3 linked regions of the Homo sapiens genome follow. The protein of the gene in region 2 interacts with the protein of the main gene of each other region in a pairwise test. Each region holds a gene or a part of one and is shown on either strand. Other genes may lie near its edges.

Evidence for each region. The genes of interacting proteins can lie anywhere in the genome.
Region 1: the proteins of MGST3 (region 2) and FUNDC2 interact in binary tests that used the Homo sapiens proteins (3 or more experiments, as listed by UniProt).
Region 3: the proteins of MGST3 (region 2) and C3orf52 interact in binary tests that used the Homo sapiens proteins (3 or more experiments, as listed by UniProt).

What each region holds. Positions count from the first base shown.
Region 1 is NC_000023.11:155,057,844-155,060,804, reverse strand, and holds the end of FUNDC2 (FUN14 domain-containing protein 2), read right to left. Parts: 3' UTR 501-2,961; downstream 1-500. UniProt on the Homo sapiens protein: Binds directly and specifically 1,2-Diacyl-sn-glycero-3-phospho-(1'-myo-inositol-3',4',5'-bisphosphate) (PIP3) leading to the recruitment of PIP3 to mitochondria and may play a role in the regulation of the platelet activation via AKT/GSK3B/cGMP signaling pathways.
Region 2 is NC_000001.11:165,634,156-165,641,312, reverse strand, and holds part of MGST3 (glutathione S-transferase 3, mitochondrial), read right to left. Parts: intron 1-7,157. UniProt on the Homo sapiens protein: Displays both glutathione S-transferase and glutathione peroxidase activities toward oxyeicosanoids, as part of cellular detoxification as well as synthesis of bioactive metabolites.
Region 3 is NC_000003.12:112,089,389-112,096,388, reverse strand, and holds part of C3orf52 (TPA-induced transmembrane protein), read right to left. Parts: intron 3,030-7,000; coding exon 2,900-3,029; intron 1-2,899. UniProt on the Homo sapiens protein: Has a role in LIPH-mediated synthesis of 2-acyl lysophosphatidic acid (LPA). LPA is a bioactive lipid mediator involved in different biological processes, and necessary to promote hair formation and growth.

The DNA of each region.
Region 1 (2,961 bases), on a different chromosome or scaffold from region 2:
TTGACAGCTGTCAGTCACTTTATGAAGTAGGAGGAGGCAGCATGCAACAGGCCATTTGCTTTCCTCAAATGGATGCTTGAACCACCAAAGGCTGTCCTCTAAAAAAGAAAAAGATGACTAAAAGCAGGAACAATTTCTGCTAGGTCCCTGATGTTAAAATACCATGATTATTTGAGACCAACTGTTTTCTTTAAAGCAGCATTACTCAAAGTGTTTCTAGGAATTGCTGTAACCGGAAGAAAAAAAAAAGGCTTCTCTGGTCAGGTAAGTTTGGGGAATGCTAGGTTGCATACAAGTACACAGGTTAATTTCCTGTCAGACTTCAGAGCTTTCAAAAAACCTAAGTGAACCTGTTTTGCAGACAGCATCTCTGTGTGTGAATGCTCTCCAGAGCGACTTAAAGAAATGCTGCCTTAGAGACGTTTGGTCCACAAACCAGAGTGACAGAGCTAAATCCCCATGAAATTTAAATGACGTCTTGTGTTAATAATAACACAATAAAACATCATACAACTTTAATGTTACACCATCTACAAATCTAAATTACATTTAAAATTATCAGTTGACAGTTGTACTAGGATTTACATTAGGAATCACTACATGATCAAATAGATTGTTTTTCTGTGTTTTATTGCCAAGTTATTTTTACTGAGTTAACTACTCCAGTTTCAGACTCTTTTAAATGTTTTTATGCTAAAGTATATGTATTAGTCCATTGTTGCATTGCTATAAAAAGTGCCTGAGACTCGGTAATTTATAAATAAAAGAGGTTTAGTTGGCTCACAGTTCCATGGGCTGTACAGGAAGCATGGCACTGGTATCTGATGGGCTTCTGGGGACGCCTCAGGAAACTTACAGCCATGGCAGAAAGCAAAAGGGGAGTGAGCACTCCACATGGCCAAAGCAGGAGCAAGAGAGAGTGAGGGGTGAAGTGCCAGATCTCATGAGAACTCACTATCATGAGTGAAGTACCAAGAGGGGATGGCCCCCACGATCCAATCACCTCTCACCAGGATCCACCTCCATTAGGGAATACGGTTCAACATGACATTCGGTGGCTCCAAACTGTATCAGTATACGACTTTCTTTCAGTTTTGAAAGGTTCAAATCAGTTCCTTCTTTTAAAGGATTGTGTCAGTTTAAGTCAACAAATCCATTTGAAGACATTAATTTAACTCTTCTTATTCTTAGGTATTATTATGACATACAAAAAAATAAAATAGCCATCATAGAAGGCTTAACATTTACTGAGTGCTTCTTATTGTTAGGGACCAAGAGTAACACTGAATCTCAGTCTTAAGCAAAGAACTCTAGGAAGGTGAAAACTATGATCTCCCATTTTAGAAACCAAAAAAAAAAAAAAACTTTGTTAAGTTGGCTATTAGTGATGCTAAGTTTAATCACTTGGTTAGTGACTGACAGACCTTTTAGCTAGAAAGGTAGTTTTCCCTTCGTAATGGGTAAGTCATTTGTGGGGTGATATCTTGTCACTCCTTTCCTTGCATTCACTCCACACGATTCCTAAGACATTTAATGAACTATAATATTACACTTGTGTTCAGTATTCAGAAGGCATCTGAAGTTGTATGGCACTTAATATAAAAGGCTTTAAAGCCCTCTTAAGGAGTTAACAGCAAAACTCTTAATTTTTTCAGCACCAGCTTCCAACTGTGTACTTCAGTGGTTCTCAGTCTCTGCTGCTCATTAGAAAAAGCTAAGACACTTTAAAACCTCAGGATGCCTGAACAGCACTCCAGACCAGTGAAATCAGAATCTCTAGGATGAGAGCCAGGCATTAGTAGTTTTTAAAATTTCACAGGTGATTCCCAAGTGCAAGCAAGGATGAAAGCCACTGCTCTCAGGAATGTCATTTCTTACCATTTTAAAATTTAAAAAGGTAGACACTTTTGAAAAGTCAGTAAACTGACTTTAAAGCTTTATAAAAATGTGAAAAAGTGCGACACTTTTCTTTTAAAAAAAAAAGTATTAAGATTCATGACCCCTTAAAAAGAATGCAAGCATCGGAAATATAAGCTATACCATATGACTTCTAGAAAAATCAGGCTCAGAACTAAAATAGGTTTTCTGCCCAATTACTCAGATGTTAGTGTGACCTCTTAGAAAATTGGGCAGAAAATGTATTTTAGTTCTGGGCCTGATTTCTGAGAAATCATACTAGATTTCATGACAAAGAAATGAAGCTGATAATTTGGTAGAGGGAGTAGAGGGCAGCAGCCACATTTTTCTCTGGGGTCCAAAACTGGCTGTGAGCTTCCCTCTGAGAAGAAATTGAGATCATCATGAAACATTGATGATACTCAGAAATTTCAAATCCATCAGTATACCATCTTTTCAAGCAGAGATTCCCAAACTGTACAAAAGTAGAGGTTCCAAATAAGAGCCCAACCATTAGTTATGCCCATCTTTCTGACAACCGTGAAACAAAAGAATGATGGAGAGACTATTCTTACCACAATAGTTGTTAACTACACAGTAACTTTGCTTTCCAAAACCAGAAGCACCCACCCCAAGAGCATGTTGGCTAGAATTATGCAAGAGATCATTCCTTGTAGAATCTAGTCCGCCAACTTGAATCGTCTTCTGCCAGCATCCATGAGACAGTAACTGCCCAGATCCAGTAGCAAGGACTGTCACCCCAGTGGTAGGGGAGTCAAGAACCCCACTGTCCTGTTAATGAATGTCTGGAGGCTGAGTGGCGGGAGATTGCAACAAACAAGCGGCCATTTGGGAGGAGAGTCATGCTAACATATTATCACAATGGCAATAACACTCATGACAATGGGCTGCTCAGGCAAGGGTCCCCACCACCACATCTCTCCCCGCACCCAGCTCCCGTGTCAGCAATGAGGATACACATTCTTGGGGGAGACTGAAACATTGGACTCCATCTGTTGAGCCCGAGCAGGCAGCGGCCAGAAAGTGCCCCTGGATCCGTCTCTG
Region 2 (7,157 bases):
GTGGGGATGCAGCAGTGAACAAGAAAGGGTCCTGCCCTCAAGGCCCTGACCTTCGAATGATGACAGGAGACTGACAACAAACATGCAAACAAAAAACAGCTTCAGGGAGTGGGAACTCTTTTTTTGTTTTGAGACAAAGTTTTGCTCTTCCCCCCAGGCTAGAGTGAAGTGGCACGATCTAGGCTCACTGCAACCTCCGCCCCCTGGGTTCAAGTGATTCTCCTTCCTCAGCCTCCCGAGTAGCAGGGATTATAGGTGCCCACCATCACACCAGGCTCATTTTTGTATTTTTAGTAGAGACGGGGTTTCACCACGTAGGCCAGGCTGGTCTCGAACTCCTGACCTCAGGTGATCCACCTGCCTCAGCCTCCCAGAGTGCTAGGATTACAGGCACCTGGCCAAGAATGGGAACTCTTCTGGGGAAAACACACGGCAATGGCATAGAGACTGGGCAGGGCTGTTGCATCAGGATCCCGGCTGGGAAGGCCTCCTTTGTGTGGCATTGAATATAGTATACCTCTCTAGATGGACTATGTGCTCTTTGAGGACAGAGAGCGTGTCTCCTTGCTTATATTTTTTATAGCAACTTGCATGAAGACAGAAACTCAGTAGAATGCTGCTGTTCTATATCCTAGATCAGTGGTTCTCAAACTTTGGTGGCATTAAAATCACCTGGAGAGTTTGTTAAAACATACCTCAGTCCCAGAGTTTCTGGTTCAGTCATGTTAGGTGGGGCCTGAGTATTATCATATCTAACTAGTTCCTAGGTAATGCTGATGATGTTGGTCAAGGACCACATTTTAAGAACCACTGTTCTGAGCAAAAACAAAATTTGCAGGAGGTGGTGATTCTATCTGATTCAAAACCACAGTCACAGTCTTGTCTTGGTGGTTATATTCTACTACTATCTTTGGAGGCTCCTGAGGTGCTCCTTCTGTACCACCCCTGAAAACAGAATGGGGCTGATGAGATCAGAGACTGTTGTGAAGAGCAAGCTCCAGCTAAGCTCTTCACAATTACACACTAACAGTGTGCCCAGCAGAAGACTGACTTCTTCTTTCAGCTTTAACAGAGGTTCGAGACAACAAAGCAAGTGTGTAAGCCAGCTCAGTATCTTCAGAGTCTCTATCCTGTGACCACCATTGGGTTACCAGATCTCACTTCATGGTCATGGTCACTCACCAGATCAGATTTTCCCATAGTCAAATGAGTCAGAGTTCTAGGTTCTCCATCCTTCAAAAGTAATGCTCATTATGCTACAGAATGACCTCTCTGGGATCATCCCTTCTAATACCATGGATCAGGCATACCTCAACTTCTGAATGATTAGAAACATGACTTCAAATGAAAGGCCTATTTAATGAATCAGTAGGACTTCCAGCCAACTTCTCATGGAATTTTTCATCCCATCTGGCAGAAACAGCAAAACTGAAAATATCACTACTACATATATAATACCTAACTATAAGACCTGGTCCCATAGAGTGCTTCTTTTGTTTTGTTTTGTTTTGAGACAGGGTCTTGCTCTGTCACCAAGGCTGGAGTGTAGGGGTGCTATCTCAGCTCACTGCAGCCTCTGCCTCCCGGGTTCAAGCAATTCTCATGCCTCAACCTCCAGAGTAGCTGGGATCACAGGCACATGTCACTACACCCAGCTAATTTTTGTATTTTTAGTAGAGATGGGGTTTCGCCATGTTGGCCAGGCTGGTCTCGAACTCCTGACCTCAAGCAGTCCACCTGCCTCAGCCTCCCAAAGTGCTGGGATTACAAGCATGGGCCACCGCGCCAGGCCTAGAGTGCTTCTTTTATGGCAGGCACTGTAACAGAGTTTAGATATTTTAACACTTTCCATCCTTACAACAATCCCATATGATAGTTACTATTATTATCCCCATTCTATGGATGAGGAAATGGAGGCAAAGAGAAATTCAACAATTTGCCTAAGGTCCCACAGCTGATGAGTGCACAGCTGGTGTCTGAATACAGGCAGACTGATGCCAGTGTCCATGCTTTTTGCTACTAACACACTACTGGGTTTGTCCCTTACTCAGAAGTTAAATCACCTCTTCCCCCAGTACGGGAAGCACCGAGGGGAAAGTCCTCTGCAACGTTCAATTGAAGGCAATTGAATCCTGCTGCACCACAGGCTTCTACTCCAGGAGAGAAACAGAGCCAGGGCCCAAGAGCATAGGGGAGGGAGAGACAGATCCACGATCGTTGGAATACTTTACATAGAGGATCATACCATCTGCAAAGAGAGACAGTTTTACTTCTTCCTTTCCAATGTGGATGTCTTTTATTTATTTTTTTTTCTTGACTGATTGTCCTGGTTAGGGGCAATGCAATGTTGAATACCAGTGGCAAGTGCCGACATCCTTGCCTCTTTCCTCATCTTAGGGGGAAGCATTCAGTCTCTCTCCTTTAAATATGTTATTAGTGGCTGGTTTCCACAGATGCCCCTTTTAAGAATACTTTAGAAACCTAATTATTTCTAGAATGTGGGTTTTTTTTTTTTTTTAAGACGGAGTCTCTCTCTGTCCCACAGGCTAGAGTGAGTGGCAGAGTGCAGTGGCACGATCTTGGCTCACTGCAACCTCCACCTCCTGGGTTCAAGTGATTCTCCTGCCTCAGCCTCCTAAGTAGCTGAGATTACAGACATGCACCACCATGCCCAGCTAATTGTTGTATTTTAGTAGAGACAGGGTTTCGCCATGTTGGCCAGGCTGGTCTTGAACTCCTGACCTCAAGTGATCCACCCTCCTTGGCCTCCGAAAGTGCTGGGATTACAGGTGTGAGCCACCGTACCTGGCTGGGTTTTTGTTTTGTTTTGTTTTTGTTTTGAGACAGGGTCCCCCTCTGTCATCCGGGCTGGAGTGGAAGTGGCACAATCAGGGCTCACTGCAGGCTTGACCTCTGGACTCAAGCAATCCTTCTGCCTCAAAGTAGCTGATATTACAGGTGTGTGCCACCATGCCCAGCTAATTTTTTGTATTTTTAGTACAGACGGGGTTTCGCTATGTTGGCCAGGCTGGTCTCGAACTCCTGAGCTCAAGCAATTTGCCTCTCTCAGCCTCCCAAAGTGCTGGGATAAGAGGCATGAACCACTGCTCCTGGCCCTATAATGTTTTAAAAACACAGCAGCACTTCTATTTGTAACTTTTACATTTATCAGTGTATTACTTGCCAAACATGATTGTTTTGGAGTACATTATCAAGTTAGGGGAAGAAAACTAGGAACAGTATTTTGAAGCAAGCAGGGTATAGGACGTGGGGGGTAGCAGAAAAGCCCCGGGCCATGGTAGGTTTTCAGGGGTAGATTAGGAGACTAACATGCCCTGGTAAGCAGCAGGGCTCTGACGTCCGTGGGTGGTAGAATAGCAAAAACTTTTCAGTGTAGCCAGAGTTAGCAGACACCCAATGGGTTTTAAGTAAGCTACAACACACACATTTGCAAAGTTTCAGTTTAGGAGTGATCAGACTTGGGCTTAAGATGAGGCAGTGTTGGTCTAACTCCTAAAACACATGCTCCATTCCAGCATTTGAGTTAGCAACACAGGGGTTCATTATGACATCTGGCTAAGGTACTTAACCTCTAGAAATTTTACTGACAGAGTTTCCTGGGAACACAGCTATTCAAATACCAAAATGTTGCTCAACCTTTCCTCTAATTCTTGCTTCTGCCACCATTTGACGTATCTTACTGGGGCAGGGTTCCTTTGGTTGCAAGGCTTACCCAGAAAGCTTCCTGAACTACATCCAATAGAACACTCCTGGGGTAAAGGTCTCCTTCACTACTTCCCAAATTCCTCTTGGCTGCCCATCAGAAATTCCCCAGCACACAATCAGCATTCCACAAACAAAGCAAAAGGCAGGCTTTATGGATTTGGGTACCTGCCTCAAATAATTTACCACTTCTGAGCCATGAAGTGACACTACCTTTTATTTTACTAAATGACAATGAGATTCTTAAGGGAGAGAAGATTATGTCTTTCAGCTCTCTCTCTTTGCTCCCAAATAAATAAAATCCAGCTTTGACAAAAGTAGTCCCTACTTCTGTGTATGATATTGCTCTCCTCAAATTGTACTGCAATTTCTCAACTGCTCTTTTTTTTCTTTTTAATGTGTCCAGGGATGGGACAATGACAAAGCATTCACAGATTAACTTGAAGCCATTCTCCAATGTTTCATTAAAATCCTTATTCGGCTGCCTGTGCTATTCCAATCTTCCTTACATGGCAAAAATCAATATTTTAATGAGAGTAACACACAAGGATAGTCACATAAAGGGCTAGTCTGATCATACCAAAAGGACTTCCCTGAGTCCCAAACACCAGACGGTAGCTTAGAACACTCTGAGGTGGTGCTGAGGGTCCACTTGGCTCACTTAAAGCTCCCCTGGATAGTTGTACAGCCTAACTTCTGCATCCAGATGTTTCCACGAAGGAACAAGCCTCAAAACCATCTCCAGCCAGGGCAGCTGACCCTCCATACAATGCTCAGCGGAGCTCACACAATGCTCAATGGAGAAATTAAAGAGCCTAGAGGGAAGTAACATAAAAACAATTTTTTTTTTTTTTGAGACGGAGTCTCACTGTGTTGCCAGGGTGGAGTGCAGTGGTGCCATCTCAGCTCACTGCAACCTCTGCCTCCCAGGTTCAAGTGATTCTTCTGCCTCAGCCTCCTAAGTAGCTGGGACTACAGGTGTGTGCTACCACGCCCCGGTTAATTTTTGTATTTTTAGTAGAGATGGGTTTTTACCATGTTGATCAGACTGGTCTCGAACTCCTGACCTCAGGTGATCCACCCACCTTGGCTTCCCAAAGTGCTGGGGTTACAGGCATGAGCCACCGTGCCTGGCCCATAAACGCAATCCTCTTGCTCATTACACAATGTATATACGTACTAAAACATCACACTGTATCTCATAAATATATCCAATATTATATATCTATTAGAAACAAAGTAAAACTTAAGCTGGGTGCAGTAGTGCACACCTGTAATCCCTGCTACTTGGGAGGCTGAGGTGGGAGGACTGCTTCAGCCTAGGAGTTTGAGTCTAGCCTGGGCAACATGGTGAAACCCCACCTCAAAATGACAACACACACACCCACACACAAAAACTTTAAAAATGTAATTATCTGTTTCTATGATAGGACAGAAAAGGAGAGTCATGGGATTTCTTTGGGTTCAGACTACATTTTCAGAATGCTAGTTCCAGTCCACTTCTACATTAAACAGATGCTAAAATCTGTTTGAGCGCCAAACCTTCATGACAGCCAGATTTAAATTACACTTAAAAGAAGGAACAGAAACCTAGGTAATGAAAAGTAACTATCCCCCGACAATTGCATTGCATATTCAGTAGATTGTTCCCTAAGGGCTAAAAACAAAAAGTTGAATAGAAATCATATTATTTATCCAGCACTTGATTACTGGTTCAAGTAAGGCAAATAGCAGCAAGCAGGTCCTAGAGTGGGTCTTTCACAGTACCTCACAGTCCATAGTCTTCAATATTCATCAATGTTGCTGGTGGAATATTTGGAGAGTGGAAGCTAACTATATGTTAGGAGGATGGAAGATCTGTCCCTTTAAGAGATAAATATGTTATAATCCAAATATATTCAACTGTATAGTTAAATAGCCATAGTTTGGCCATATAAAATATTCAAGTTTTAGATGTCGTTTTTATTCCAACACTTTGGTAAACTGTTGGTACTGAAAACAATTGCTTAATACATGGCTGCACTGGCTGGGAGTGGGGGAGGGAAGATCAGCAGGATGCTCAAGTTCCAGTGAATGGTTCTTGGTTATAGAGCACAAGCTTGCACTCACACGAACTCTGTTGAAACTCTGTTAAAGCCAAATAAGCAAATTACCTGCTTTCTTCTTCTCTGGAGTGTGCCTTCTGTGTAATAAGGCACTAAACACACATGCCTGATGAAATCTCCTCTGAGAAAAAACTGGTAATTCTGTTCTTCAGGAATCTAAGAATACTAGATTTATAACAAGACAGAATAAATTCCAGGTTCCCCTGCAGGTATAAGGACAAACTTTCCCAGATTCTTGACACAGAAGGTTCTGTGGGAGATACCTAACCTAGAAGCCCTGGGCTTTGCTAGACCCTTTGGAGCTGAGCTTCCCAAGAGATGTGATCCCAGGGACAACCCACTGGATGTTTCCCATGGTCTGCAGGCAGCAACCTCAGAGGGCGGGGTGGAGGGGGAGGGGAATGGTGAGAAGCCATGGGATACAGAAGGAAAAATAAAGACAACATCTCATAATGCATTAAATGAAGCTGATATGATAAATTCAATGTCGGACAAAGCATTTTACCTAAATGGGATGCTTGCCTCAAGTCCATAGCTATCATCTTCAGTATTTTCTCAGAATGATTCCTTCCCTTATTCATCCTTTACTAAATGCCATGTTCCACTCAAGGGGCAGGGCTACTATGAGAATGATCAAGAATGAGAAGGAAGGTCCTGACTCTCTAGAATACACAGTTGAGAGTGGGGGGGAGGGAGGGAGGGAGAGGGAGGGAGAGAGAGGGAGGGAGGGAGAGAGAGAGAGAGCGCATGATTGAGAGAGAGCACGAGTGAGCATGCAGTCAGGGAAGACAAAAACACAGCAGGACCATACCATAAAACATAAGGGTGACATTGCGACAAAGGATCTGAAGAGCATAAAGTGATATGTGAGAGAGAACACAGGTAAAGAAAACAGCAAGAGCAGAGACTTGGAGACAGAAAAAGGCTTGACTTGTATGAAGGAGAGAAAAGAGTCCAGTGTGTCTGAAGGGTAGTGATATAGACTAGAGGAAGAAAAGTAGGAGAAATCAATTATTATTACTTATTACCACCGTGCACAGTATTTAGTAAGGGGCAAACCTTGTTCTAAGCAGTTAGTTCATCAGTATTAACTCATTTAGATCCTCACAGCATCCCTATGATATTACTCCCATTTTGCAGATGAAGAAACGCAGTACCAGAAAGGTTAAGTGACCTGCCCAAGGTCACACAGCGATCACAGAGCACAGCCAGATCCCCACACCCCCAAGCAGTCTGGCTCCAGTTTGTGCTCTCAGCCTTTTGCTATATTGTCTCTCAATGAGGTTGAAAAGCAAGTTTGACCACACCTGACATCTTTTGAAACATTTC
Region 3 (7,000 bases), on a different chromosome or scaffold from region 2:
ATACCCTTTTTCTGTGGTATTTAAGCCCTGGGCCTTTGGGGTAATGGTGCAGGAATGCACCATCTCCTCTCACTGCTGCCCAACGCATGGCTTCTGTTCCTAAAACCCTGTTAAATGTTTCTTTCTGAGTAACTGGATTTGTCAGTTTTTCTTTAGCCTCTCAGCTTCCTCAGCCTTTCTGGGTAGTTTTGCAAAGACCTGCCTACTGAAGAACAAAAGTTAACACTTCCGCCTCCAAGCTTCAGTCTGAAGACTACAGAGCCTTGAGACAGGAGATTAAGGGGTCTAGAGAAGGGTAAGCAGGCAATGAATGGCAAATATAGTTCCTGAGGAACCTTAGTCACCCAGTAAATCCAGACAGCCACAGGCACAGCCCTTGACTCTCCCAACAGTGTTTTTATCCCCAGACAACATTTCCCATGCAGTACTTGAAAGTTCCACAAATATCTGATTCATATTAATGGGCTTGGCAATTAGGAAGTGGCTGATTATTGAAGATCATCCCCAAAAAATGCCTACGGAACTGCTCTAGGTGAGGCTGGGACTGTCACAGAAGGGAGCCCCTGCCCCACCCCTTTTAACCTACTGTATCTCCCCCCACCCCCACGTCTAACATGACTCTCCCCACAGGATCAAATACCTAAGAGCTGAGATGCCAAGTAAAATACAAGTATTTCCTTGATTTAAAAAGTAGTTTGAAAAAATCTCTCTTACAGCATTGACATGTTCGAACACAAATTTACAGTTAAATTAAAAATAAAGTTTGCACTACAAGTGTTAAAAAAATTCTTCCCTGAATATTATCCCATAACCTTTTACATCTCCAGAAAAACTGTGGAAGGAAGTGAAATACCTTCCTCTTGCAGACTGCTCTTTGTGAGGTGAAGAGGTTAGATGACTTTTTGAGAATGGAAGACAGATCCTGGGTCTTGCGCTTTAGAATCCTGAATATTAAACCATCTAGATCTCTTGAATCATCCTTTATGATAGGCCCCAGATGCCAACAGGATCCAAATATCAACTTCTAGGATAGCACCAACTAGTTATGTCAGGACAAGATTGTGCTACTCAACCTCATTTTCAACATCCATGTGTTGGAATTGATATGAATAGGAAGTATGGCAATGCTCACACCAAAACTATTGTCCTCAGCATGACGGAGGAGGTGCAGCACACTTCATTAGCTTTTTCCTACCTTAACACCAGCTTATATCCTCAAACAGTCATCCAACACACCTGAACAATGCCCTAAGTAAATACGTAGATATGGTGCCTGGCCAGGAAACTTATGTGCTGGAGGTTGGCTGATGTCATCAAAGTTTTCCTATTCCTTCAGGAATTACAAAACTCTAAGACAGGAAATTAAGGGGTTGGGAGAAGGGGAAACAAGCGGTAAATGGAAAATGTAGTTTCTGAGGAAAATTCCTGAGAACTCCCTCTGGAGAGACTGGGGAGTTACCCCTTCTTCTTCTCATTCTATGACTGGGTTTGTAACTGGGAGCTGGACTCAACCCATGCCGCATGAAGGCTGGATCATGCTCGGGAGTATCCCAGCCTCAGTCGAGCCCCTCTCTACCATCACCCCCACATATAAATAAAAACAATTTTCTTCTTTCCCATTTTGAATTGAAATGATTGTCCACTGGAGGATGTAAAAACTTTAACGAATACTAATAATCATTAAAAAATTGGTAACTACCTAAAGAACTTTAAATGATGTGGAAGACTGTATCATGCAAATCATAAAAATAATAATGTTCACAAATAATTTTTAATGACTTGGCAAAATGATCTAAACATAATATCAAAATCCTAAAGGTAGTCCACAAGACTATAAAGAAATCTAATCTCAAATTATTTTAGAAATGCAACTAAACAAAAGACTAGAAGAAAATATGACCAAATATTAATATTACAGATGGGTTTTATGGGTAACTGAACATATATCATTTTTCAATCAAAATAAGCAACAACATGAAATAATATATGGAATAGATGTAGTCATATATAGTTAGCATTCTATACATTTTTTGTTTTATACACACATACAACACTAATAAAATAAACAGTCATTTCTAAAACAAGTTAAAATTGGGCCAAGCATGGTGGCTCATGCCTCTAATCCCAGCAATTTGGGAGGCCAAGGCAGGCAGATCACTTGAGGTCAGGAGTTCAAGACCAACCCGGACAACATGGCAAAACCCCGTCTCTACTAAAAATACAAAAATTAGCTGGGCGTGGTGGCACATGCCTATAATTCCAGCTATTTCGGAGGCTGAGGCATGAGAATTCCTTGAACTTGGGAGGCAGAGGTTGCAGCGAGCCAAAGTCGTGCCACTGCACTCTAGCCTGGGTGACAGAGTAAGACTTTCTCTCAAAAAAAAAAATAAATAAATACAATAAGTTAAAATAATGACAGCTTATGGACACATGGTTCTTCAAAGTTTTTTAAAACTCTTTCAAATACATTATTTATTATTTTATCATCATAGTAATATATCAGACACACCAGATGAAGTATAATTATTTTTAGCAAACAAATGAAAAGAAAAAGAATTCAAATCAACAGGTATCAGGATATAAATAAAATATAAATCAGTGTTTAAGTAAGTTGAAACATTAAGAAACCTCTTCAAGATCCAATGAGCAGAGTTTAAAGTAAAACACTGGTTTCTATATTTCTTCTGGAGCTTATAAAACAACAAAATACAACAACAACAGAAAACAAAAACACAAGAATCAGGCATATCTCCCACCCATACAATATATTCCAAGCCGGTCTTAAATTCACATTATAAATAATGAAATGGCTATGAGTACATCTTCCATTTCAGTGTAAGTCACAAGCCTTAAGTAAGTTCTTAAAATGTGTTATTTATTCACATCTAAATCCTCTTACCTGCAGCAAGACATAAGCCTATGATGATCACTGTAATGACACCTAGGAAAATGGAGGTGATGATCATCCACAGTTTGCATCTTCCAACCACATTCTTATTACAGGAGCTCCAGGGGCTTTCCTTGTTAGCCTAGAAAGGCAGAGGGAGATTGTGAGGCAGTCATTGTGTTGCAACAGACAGTTCTGAATACCTAGGATGTGCCAGAGACACAGAAATGAAGGCAGCAAGACCCTGACCTTAGGGCAACACTCTACTGAATCAAGTTTTCAAAAAGAGAGATCAGAGGCAGAACAGAACCTCATCAAGAAGTTAGCAAGAAAATCCTCTGGGGGCTCTGAAGTGGGGAGGATAGGCAGGATTTTGAAAGATGGATTTTTGAAGGCATTCCAAACCCAGGAAAGAGCATCCAAAGTGTGGATTCGTAATGGAACCGGCCAGCAGACTAGCCTGCCGACTGGAATGTGGGTTTCAGAGGCAAATAATGAAAGTTAAGATTAGAGAGAGTGAAAGGCTGGGAGCACACTCAGAGGGTGTTGATAGCTGTCCCAGAATAGATTGGACTTAATTGGGTGTGCACTGGAAACTTGAAGGTTTTGAAACACCAGAGCCGAGTTGAAAATTAAGGGAAAATCATGTGTGGTTTAGAGTGGAAACACCAAGAAAAAGCTACAAGGCTACTGCTGTGGCCTAGGTTCTATGTAAAAAAGGGTTGGGAAGGGAAATGAAAGGACAGCTGCAAGAGACAACAGGAAATAAGCTGCAAAGCTGGAGTGAGAAGGCTGGAGTGAGGCAGAGGAGGGGTCAATGAAAACAAGTACAACTGCTATGGTTTATTGAGCACCAGCGTCATTTCACTTAACCCTAACAGCCCTTCAGGGTGTGCACTAGTCCATTTCAAAGACGCAATTCAGAGAGATGAGCCAGAACCAATCCCTGCTGTGTGTCTCCACAAAGCTCTCCAACTTTCCCTTTTGTCCACATCACTGTGCAGAGCTCCGGTTTATGAGGGTGTCACAGAGGGGCCCCCACCTTACCCTATATGGTCCCATGACTCTTCTCCTACTTCCCACTCCACCATTAGATAATTCTTTCATGGAGACCATGGGAAACAACAGAATACAATGGGGAAAAAATGTGTCTGTATCTAACACACTTGGATTCCAAACCAAGATATACCACTTAAAGGCAAGGTGGCTTTAAGCAAGCTACTGAAACTCATAGGCCCCAAAGTCCTCAGCTTTAAAATATATAAATAGTAAATTAGCTCACAGGACTGTTGCAAAAACTAGAGATAATGGACACAAAGCATCTGCTAAACAATTATTGGGAGTTCGGCCAAAGGGTGCAACTGCGCCTCAGTCATTCCTCAGCGTTCACCATCCCACAAAGCAGCAGCCGGCACTCGAGGAGACTCGCTCCTGACCGACACCTGGCCACCTGGCCTGCTTTCTCTCCCATTCTTTTTTTTTTTTTTCTTTTTTTCTTGAGATGGAGTCTCGCTCTGTCGCCCAGGCTGGAGTGCAGCAGCACGATCTCCGCTCACTGCAAGCTCCGCCTCCCGGGTTCACGCCATTCTCCTGCCTCAGCCTCCCGAGTAGCTGGGACTACAGGCGCCCGCCACCACGCCCGGCTAATTTTTTGTATATTTAGTAGAGACGGGGTTTCACTGTGTTAGCCAGGATGGTCTCGATCTCCTGACCTCGTGATCCTCCCGCCTCAACCTCCCAAAGTGCTGGGATTACAGGCATGAGCCACCGCGACTGGCCTTCTCTGCCATTCTTATTTTGGTGCTGGCCATCAGAAAACGAATCGGTCAGTCCACACTTGGACTGTATTTCCAACCTTCTCAATTAGAGGTGCCCAAGCCTGGCTGCACATCAGAATCACTGGGTAAGGATTTTAACTGACACATACCTAGGCCCCACCTGCACCTAGTGGACCAGATTGTAAGGGAGGTGGGAGGAGGCCATGGCAGACCTCTGGTCTGAGGCCTCCCACCTTTCGGGAGTTAGGTCAAATCTCCCCTTTGGTGGAAGCCTCCCTCCCCACCTGCCCTTAGTGAGATCTTCCAATACCTGAGCTGTCCACATAGCCCATCTGCTGTTGCCACTGACTGCCCTGTCCGGTTTCAGGTTCAAAAACAAACAGAGCCTGGCCTTATCTTCCTGCGTAAACTGAAACCACATAGAGGAGGGGTGCTCTTAAACTGCCCTGTTCTTATATTCCACACCTGTGCCTTCTACAAGTAATATACATTTAACGATTGTGGGCTGTTTAGTTGTAGAGGCCTCCCAGAAATTTTAAGAATGGACTTTGAGAAAATCTAGATGAGGGGACAAATGTTGGATTTCCCAAGTGCACTTTACACTGACTCTGAGGCCTAGCCTGTCAGAGGTGCGAGGGGAGCACTTAAAGGCCCTAGGGATATCTTGACAGAGGAAATCCCTCTTGAGTTAAGTGCATTTCTGGAATCCAGGGATAGGGTCACCTCTCATCCCCACTCAAAACCTGCAGAACTGCTTCAAAGCCAGGGGAAGCCACACGGGAAAAAGACATCCCAGTACAAAGAATCTTCAGTTTCTCAGGGGACAGAAACATCTCCCCATTTACAGAGCTCCTGAGGCCAAAGCCCTGGTGCTATTTTCAGCCCTCATAAAAGGCAGCTGGGACCCATAAAGATTAGCACAAAAGGAAATATCTAGTTTCAAATGAGCCATAGAATGAGTGTCAATGCACCTCCTTGGCCTCTCATGCCTTTATTTATGCTGTCCCTTAGAGATCACAAATTAGGACTCTGGTGTGTTGAAAAAAACCACTAATTACTCTATGACTTCCTGGAGGAACTCAGCTTAAAATTTTACAGCCGTCATCTATAGGAAATGCCTCTTCCTGTAGCCTAGTGCCCTCACTGACCTGTCCTCAGCTCTAAGAGGAAGACCGCTGAGCGCTATCCCTTACATGATTAATATTCACAGACTTTATGTCATTATAAAATGGTCTGTCACAACAAAAAATAAAAATAAAAAAATAGCCAGACATGACGGTTTACACCTGTGGTCCCAGATACTGAGGAGTCTGAGGTGGGAGGATCGCTTGAGCCCAAGAGGTCAAGGCTGCAGTGAGCTATGAGCATACTACTGCACTCCAGCCTGGGTGGCAGGAGTGAGACTCTCTCAAATGAAAAAAAAAAAAAAAAAAAAAGCACATGAAACTGTCAGACACTCCCAGCCAAACAATAGACTGTACAGTGCTTCTCAGCTGTCTGCCCATTAGAATCAGCTGAGGAATTAGTATCTTTTAGAAGTAACGCCCGGAGATTCCAATGTGCCCTGAGGGTGAAGAGCCTGTGACACAGTAGGTGTGTGCTACCTGTGCCATCTGAGTCTTGCCTCAAAACTGGATCATGAAGACACACTGCCTTCTTCACTGGCTTCATCTCTCTTGCCCAAATTCTAGATCGTGAGGAGAGGCCACACATAGATTCTTCTGCAAGGTGCCTTCCGGAGATATTTGCAACTGCATCTTACATTCTATTATTGTTTTACATGGCTTAATAATTTACATTTGCAATCTGCATCTTATATTCTGTGATCATATTATATGGCTCAAGAATTTTCAGGGCTTTCCTATGAACATTCCCCGGATATTTACATCCGTCTTTAGATAAAGGTCTAAATACATGACACAGGATCCTGCAACAGTGGCAGGATACCTATCTCTTACATCTAAAAAGCCTTTCTTCTTTTTGACTCAATCAGAAGCAGATATTATATAGATCAGGGAAAATTTTCTTACAGGTAGGAAACTCTTCATAATACTCATTGTGGGATTTAATCCACTTGTTTGATCCAAGCACAAAAGAGCCAGTTGATTCTTGTCCTAAACTGAACAACACGTGGCAATGGAGCTAATTTTTAGCTAGCTCATTGAAATAAATCTTTTTTTTTTTTTTTTTTTTTGAGACGAAGTTTCACTCTTGTTGCCCAGGCTGGAGTGCAGTGGCGTGATCTGGGCTCACCACGACCTCCGCCTCCCAGGTTCAAGCGAGTCTCCTGCCTCAGCCTTCCTGAGTAGCTAGGATTACAGGCATGCGCCACCAC